Homo sapiens: one gene and its partner. The protein of the gene in region 2 purifies or fractionates together with the protein of the main gene of each other region. This does not show direct contact. Each region holds a gene or a part of one and is shown on either strand. Other genes may lie near its edges.

What was found.
Region 1: the proteins of NUDCD3 (region 2) and DET1 purify together in Homo sapiens (affinity purification with a luminescence readout; one large-scale study listed by IntAct). This does not show direct contact.

Annotation. Positions count from the first base shown.
Region 1 is NC_000015.10:88,519,035-88,522,685, forward strand, and holds part of DET1 (DET1 homolog), read right to left. Parts: intron 1-3,651. UniProt on the Homo sapiens protein: Component of the E3 ubiquitin ligase DCX DET1-COP1 complex, which is required for ubiquitination and subsequent degradation of target proteins. The complex is involved in JUN ubiquitination and degradation.
Region 2 is NC_000007.14:44,403,645-44,407,295, forward strand, and holds part of NUDCD3 (nudC domain-containing protein 3), read right to left. Parts: intron 940-3,651; coding exon 796-939; intron 1-795.

The sequences.
Region 1 (3,651 bases), on a different chromosome or scaffold from region 2:
GCAAGACCTGGCACCATCTCATCTACACCTTAGCCCTGCCTGACTCACCGACTCCCTGGCTTTCAAAGGTAAAATGATGGGGGCTGGCTCACAGCTTTGTGATGACCACAAATCAAAGCATCTGTGATAATCTACAAGTTGAAACAGTTCCTCTTCCTCCACAGCACCTACCACCTCCACTCTCCATGCTCCCCACTGATTAAAAGCAGTCACTCTCTTCGATGTCTTCACACTTTAGTTCCTGCCCCAGTGTCACTCTGTCCAGCTATACCTCTCTTAGTTCTCGGTAATTTCAAAATCCTCAGAAAGGTTCTTTACAGCACCATAGCCTCCTGCTAGTTCCTTGACCTCCTCTCAACCTCAACTGCTTATTCCACAGTCACACCCTCAACCTCACCATTACCAACGACTGCAAACCCTCTCTAGTCACAGGGTAGACCGTCACGCTCTCCAACCATCTTCTCTCCCATCTTTCCAGCTCACTCCCTCTATTCATCCCAACTTCAGCAATCCTTTAACCCCCACAGGACCTATAATCCACTGATTCTACCAACTTCTTCCCATCCTACACTCATCATATCCTCTCTTCCTTCCTTCCACATAGATGAAATTACTAAATCACTCCGTTGCACACATCCTCAACAATCTTAAATTCTCTTGCTTTGTGGTACTTGCTTAGAAAAACTACAGCCTCCAGTTAAGCTCAACTCTTCCTATTCCGTGCCTGTACTACTTGGTTTTCTCCATGGCTGTAGAAAAAACATACAATGCTCACTTTAAACTTATGGCCATGAACTTTATGTGGGCCCTTAATGCTGCAGGGCACTCATGCTGCATTTCCATAGTCCTTCCAGACTCCCATGCTCTTTCATGACTATTTCATCTCCCCTCCTCCATGCTCACTCTTAGCCAATGGCATCGCTTACTTTGTTACTAACAAATGGAAGTTAGCAGAAGATAACTTTTTTAAAGCCCCCATCAGCACATCTACCCAACATTTGTACATATATAACTTTCTGCGCTCCCATGCAAGGCAAATCCCTCTGCCAGTGCACTAGCACCCAACCCCTCTCATACACTTAAGCAGTTCTTCCACTTTCCTAAACTGTTTCCCCTTCTCTACAGGATCAGTCCCATCTGTATGCAAACATGCCATTTTTTCCCTCTCATCTAAAAAATAACAAAAACAAAATCTAACACTACCTACCCCTCCAGCTAATGCACCACTTTTCAGCTCCCATTGTAATAAAACTCCTCAAAACTCTTTTCCATACTGTCCAACTTTTCTCCTCCCATTCTTTCTTAAACCCACCCTAAAGAGGCTTTCACCCCTACTATCTCACTCAAACTACTCTTGTCAAGGTCACCAATGACCTGCACATTGCTAACTCCAATAAGTTAATTTTCAGTCCCTATTGTACTTGACTCGTCAGGTGGCTGTGACACAGCTAACACTCCTTTGAGAAACTATGAGATATCTCTACTTACAGAACTTTTGATCTTCTCCCCTAAACCTGCTCTACCCACAGGTTTACAGTTTAATGGCAACTCTCTCTTGCAAGCTGTTCAATCCAGAAACATTAGAATTATCTTTGACTTTGTTCTTTCATGGCCCATAGACCATCCTCCATTAATCAATTGGGCTCTAACCTGCAAAATACATTGAAAATATAATTACTTACTATTCCCAATGCTACCACTCTGATCCAAGCCACCACTGTTAAACAACAAATAATCAATCACAGAGGACTTGGTATGTGCCAGACACTCTTCTAGGTGCTTAGGATACATCAGTTGACAGTAAAGAACTTAAATCCTAGTGGCAGGAAACAGAATGCCATAGCTATTACTTACTGGATCACTGCAATAGTCTCTTAACTGGTATCCCTGCTGCCACCCTACCTGCCTACATTCTACTCTTAACAGAACAGCCAGAGTGACTCTGTTAAAACATAAGTGAGACTACATCACTCCTCTGCTCAAACATGACACAATCTACCTCATCTATAGTTAAAGCCAAAGCCATAGAATGGCCTTATGTATCTGCCTACCTCCCCACCCCAAATCAGGTCTCTGACCCTATTTCCAAGTACTCTGCCCCTCGCTCACTCCAGTCCAGCCACCCTGGCCTTCTTGTTGTCCCTCAAATGCATCAGATCTACCTCAGGGCCTTTAGATATGCTATTCCTTTTGCTGGGTATATTCTTCTTCCTGCTATCCACATGGCTTGCTCCCTGACTTCCTTCAAAAGCTTTCTCAACCACCACCTCCTCAGTGAAGCCTATGCTGACAACTCTACTAGGAAAACTGGCAATCTCTTCTTAATATACTCAAACCTACCAGTATTCTAACAATTTTGTTTTTTCCTTGGACACACTTTTCTTGGACTCCTCCACTTTCGTGCTTCCAAATGGTCTGACAGGTGGACAGTCATTCTGCAAATTCCCTTTATCATTATCCTCAAGACTCTCTTTGCCTCTCTCCAGTGTCAGACTATTTCCTACATACCATTCTTTTGTGGTCTATTGAAGTACATCTCCATAGGCTTCCTTAGAAAAGGTACATGAGAGGTAATCTTTTCAGACTTCACAGGTTTGAAAATGTCTCCATTCCACCCTATTATTTGGATATAGAATTCTAAATTGCAAATCACCCTTTTCATAGAATTCTGAGGGCATGATTTTAATGACTTCAAGCTTTCAGTATTATTGATGTCTGATGTCATTATGATGACTTATTGTTTTTACATGTGAAATGTATGTTCTTTCTCAAAGTTTTCACAATGTTCTCTTTATCACCAATGTTCCAAAATTTCATGATGATATGCCTCTGTGTGTGGGTCTTTTTCATTGACTGTACTGGATACTAGATGAATCCAGTGGTGCGCTGATAAAGGTTTAATTTTTCTTGGGGGAAAAAAGCCATGATTTGTAGTGCTTCCTGCTTTCTGTGGTGTAAATCTTCCTGCCAAGGTACCAATGTGACATTACTCAATGTGCAGTTGCCAAGAGAAGAGCTGTAGCACCTTATTATATAGTATTTACACCATATAGATAAAATAGATGCAAAAACCACAAGAGCCTAAGTAACAGTAAAATCGGAAATAATTTGGAAATAAGTTTTAATAACGACTTTGTTTAACAATCAGCTTGCAAAAATTCCTGAAAGTTTAACAGTCAGATCTCATGAGCCAGGACAAGCCAGCTCCAGAACTGGATGGTCCTGCCAATCTAAAAATTCATGTTCTTCAGTCCTGGGAATCTATCCCATTATTTCTCCACTTTGTGTTCTCCACTGCTTCTTCAGGAATTAGACAGATATTTGGCCTCCTAGGCAGGTACTCTATTTTTTTTTTAAATGTTTCTCTTCTAGGTCCCTTCTCTTATCTATTTACTCTACTTTTTTGGAGAGTTCCTCCACTACATCTAACACATTTTAAATTTCCAAAAGTTTCTCATTGTTCTAGGAATGTTCCTGGTTTTTTTTTTTTTTTGAGTTGGAGTCTCGTTCTGTACCCAGGCTGCAGTGCAGTGGCGCAAATTCGGCTCACTGCAAGCTCCGCCTCCTGGGTTCACGCCATTCTCCTGTCTCAGCCTCCCGAGTAGCTGGGACTACAGGCGCCCGCCATCACACACGGCTAATTTTTTTTGT
Region 2 (3,651 bases):
CAGAAGCCTGCCAAGCATGTCTTATAGAAACCAAAACAGATACCTTTATTGCATACTTTGCACATATGAAGAATATATCTGTATAAAATTCTAAAGACTTTTGTCCAGACATTATATTTTTCTTTTCACCTTTATTCCTTTTACCATGCCCTGTAAACACCCCAGTAGGAGAAAAAAAGGAAACAAGTTAGTTCAGAACATGTTGTGCCTCAATTTATCTGTAGGTGACCTCCACTTGGGCACCAGCACAGAGCCACCACTGACAAGGTTCAAAGCTTTCACAGGGGAGAAGGAGCTGAGCCACCAACAGATCTGGCCCAGGCGTGCAGCCCAATTTGTGAGCGAGTCTGCTAACTGGTAACATGTGAGCTGTTCATTTGGAGTCACACCTTAATCTCACTGTCCTGAACTCTTAGCTATGCCTAACCAGCAGCTGGCTAAGGACAGCCAGTTGGTCAATGAGCCTGATTCTCTGAATTTATTAACTCTGTACCCTCCAGAGTAGCATCTGTAAAAATTCAACCTAGCTTTTCATTTTCAATTTACTTGTTTTTGCCTTAGATGTAAGAACAGTGGAGCTCTTGGGAATGACCAAGACCTCAAAGGGCCAAAGCTCAAGTGCCCACAGAGACGATCTCTGAGCAGTATGGAAAATGCTCAGGAAAACCCATCTGCCCCAGCAGCTGAAATTAACAACCTCACTGCTTAAGTGTAAATAGGCTTGTTGGTCAAAAGGGGCATCACTGCAGGTTTGAAGTCCACCTGGGAGCCCTACACACAGGTGCCCAAACTTACCAAAACGCACTTCCCGGGCTCGAGACTCCAGAGAGAACTCTCAGTGTTGATCTTGTGGGTGAGCTTCCCTTCCATGAGGACGCGCTCCCCATTTTCCTCCAGCATGGCCACACGAATGGAGCTGCTGCTAAGGGCCACTGAGACCTGGGGACACAGCAGAAGAAAATCATCTCTCCTATCAGGGTGACCACTGGTGTGCTGTACGGTGGGAGTGGTGATGGTTTCCAAGGTACCTGACTGCACACTACAGCGCTGTCATCAGGCTCACCAGGCATCTCAGTGAAGAAAACCATACCAGCCTAATTTATACCTAGAGCAACCTGAAGATGTCAGCTCATTTAGTAAATCCACCAGAAAATCTTTCTCAGCATAACTGGTAACGTAAAATGCTGTGGTGGAAGCTGCTGTGACCCAATCTTCTTCTCCCTTCTCCAGTTAACGGAGACCAATTGTCACAGCAAAAAGTGAGCAGAGGAGACAAGTGGTATTTCTTCCTTGCCTCCCCTTGTGGCTACCTGGGAGACGCAGGAGCCCAGCCCTGGACCACAGCAACCAAGAAAGCTGAGGGGGCTGCACACCCTGAATTGCTCACCCCAGGACTGCTGTACAAGAGACAAGCACCACCTCTTCCTTCCATGAGCCACTGCACTGCCTGGTTGACTATAGCCTGGTCTTCATCCAAGAGTATGAGACCAACTCCTTTGGTTTTGGAAGGCAGCTATGCTCACCAATATACCACCAACACTCGCACATGGTTTTGCATTTTGTCTTGGTTCTTTACAAAACCAAGCCTCTAAAAGCCTCAGCTCACCCTCCTCCCTCTGAGCCTGTCCTAGGCAGAGACTGGCCCCATGGCCTTCCCCACCGCCCTAGGAACACCTATCCCTGCCCCACCACTTGTCCGTCTCCAGAACTGGACTGGCAGCTGTGGGAGTAGGGTTCCTTTTACTTCATATCATGTATTCCAGCCAGCAGTCTCCAAAGCAGGGTATGCATACCCCAGGAGGTTCACAGGTCAGTAATTAGAAGAGGAAATAAAACAGAACTTCCATTTACATTTTGTATCTGTATAATGTATGCATTAAGAAGACACTGGGATCAAGTACTTAAAACTTTTTTCTAATAGGTATGTGGAATAAAAATAATTTGGAAGCTACTCTCCATGTCATTTGGTAGATGGCTCATTAAACGCTTATAAAATGATTGGAAAAAAAGACAACCCAAACTGATAGATTTTCCAAACTGGAGTTTAGTATTTCCAATGAAATACAATACCATAACCTAACTGTAGTTTAAATATTCGTAAATAAAAAATGGAAATGGGAGAAATGATGTGCAGGAGTCACCGCTGTCAGTTTTTCTTCTTTTTCTTTAAGAGACACGGCCTCACTGCATTGCCCAGGCTGGAGTGCAGTGGCGTGATCCCAGCTCACTGCTGCATCAAACTCCTGGGCTGAAGCAATCCCTCCACCTCAGCCTCCCGAGTAACTGGGACTACAGGTACGTGCCACCATGCCTGGCTAATTTTATTTTTATTTTTTGTAGAGACAGGGGTCTTGCTGTTGCCCAGGCTGGTCTCGAACTCTTGGCCCCAAGTGATCCTACTGCCTCAGCCTCCCAAAGTGCTGGGATGACACATGTGAGCCACCACATCCAGCCCATCAGATAGTTACTAAATGAAAGATAGTTCCTGAGCCATGCAGTGAGGGGAGAAGGTGGCAGAAGGCTGCCCACTGGGGGACACAGCGAAGATATTCTGCTAACCACAGGCGGCTCTGCCAGGTTCACATGCAGACTCCAAGGAAGCATCCTCTCATGAGATCGCAGTTCCACTTGCATGACCTTTCATAGGGGAATTTACCACGGAAAAGGGTATTTACTTGGCTAGTCCTATTGAACAATAGGCAACTGAGCTTCACTCCCTACCTTCTAACACCATGAGGAACGTGAGCAAATGGAACAACAGATCCACTCACTCCTGAAATGATCCAGACACATGTTGGGCCAAATCATGTCTAACCATGAACTTGTGTGCAATGGAAACACGACACAGAGGGCCCAAGGCTCCTCAGCCTGCCTTCACAAGAACAAGCTCACTTAACAAATATAATTCTCCCACCCAGCTCTATATAACATAATAATTTCCAAATTTGGGGAAGCTTCTCACACTGCCTACCCAGGGGAATGAACCAAATCATCAAGGGAGAAAACCAGACAAGAAATGCTTCCAGAGGTCCCAGGTGAAGATGTCACACTGGGAACAGACAGCCATCTCTCTGACCTCTTGTGAACTGCAGGCATAATAGGCATGAAGAGAAAAACCCCAGACAGTGAAAATGGGGGAAGAGGGAGGCCAGGAACAGATGAGATGTCAACAAATCTGCAGAAGACAAAAGGAGGAGGGGCACAGGAGACAAATCCTATAGGGTAGGAGACATCCAGAAGCCACAGCTACATAGGCTCCAGTTGGGAGTCGGCAGGTATGCAGAGCAGGAGCAAGGCCAGGGGCACATGTGGGAACTGCTGTGGCCCTGGACGCCCCACTGAAAGGGACAGGAATCCCTCTGTTTGCTACAGAAGAATGGAGGACCTTGCTCCAAAGACACTGACCAGCAGTCTGAGGACCTAGTGTGGATGCCTGTGTGTCAAGTGAAGTCCTACTCACTCAAGCATTAGGATGCCAAGACCCTATGTCCTATAAAGCAAAGCTGACTGGTCAATCCACTCAGCTGTCGGTGGTGGTGGGACGAGCAGGTTTCAGACACACAGTAGACAAACCCATCAATACGGTCCCACACTCAAGAGAATGGGAGAAAAATATTTTTGTATTAAAAAAAAAAAAAAGACCGGGCATGG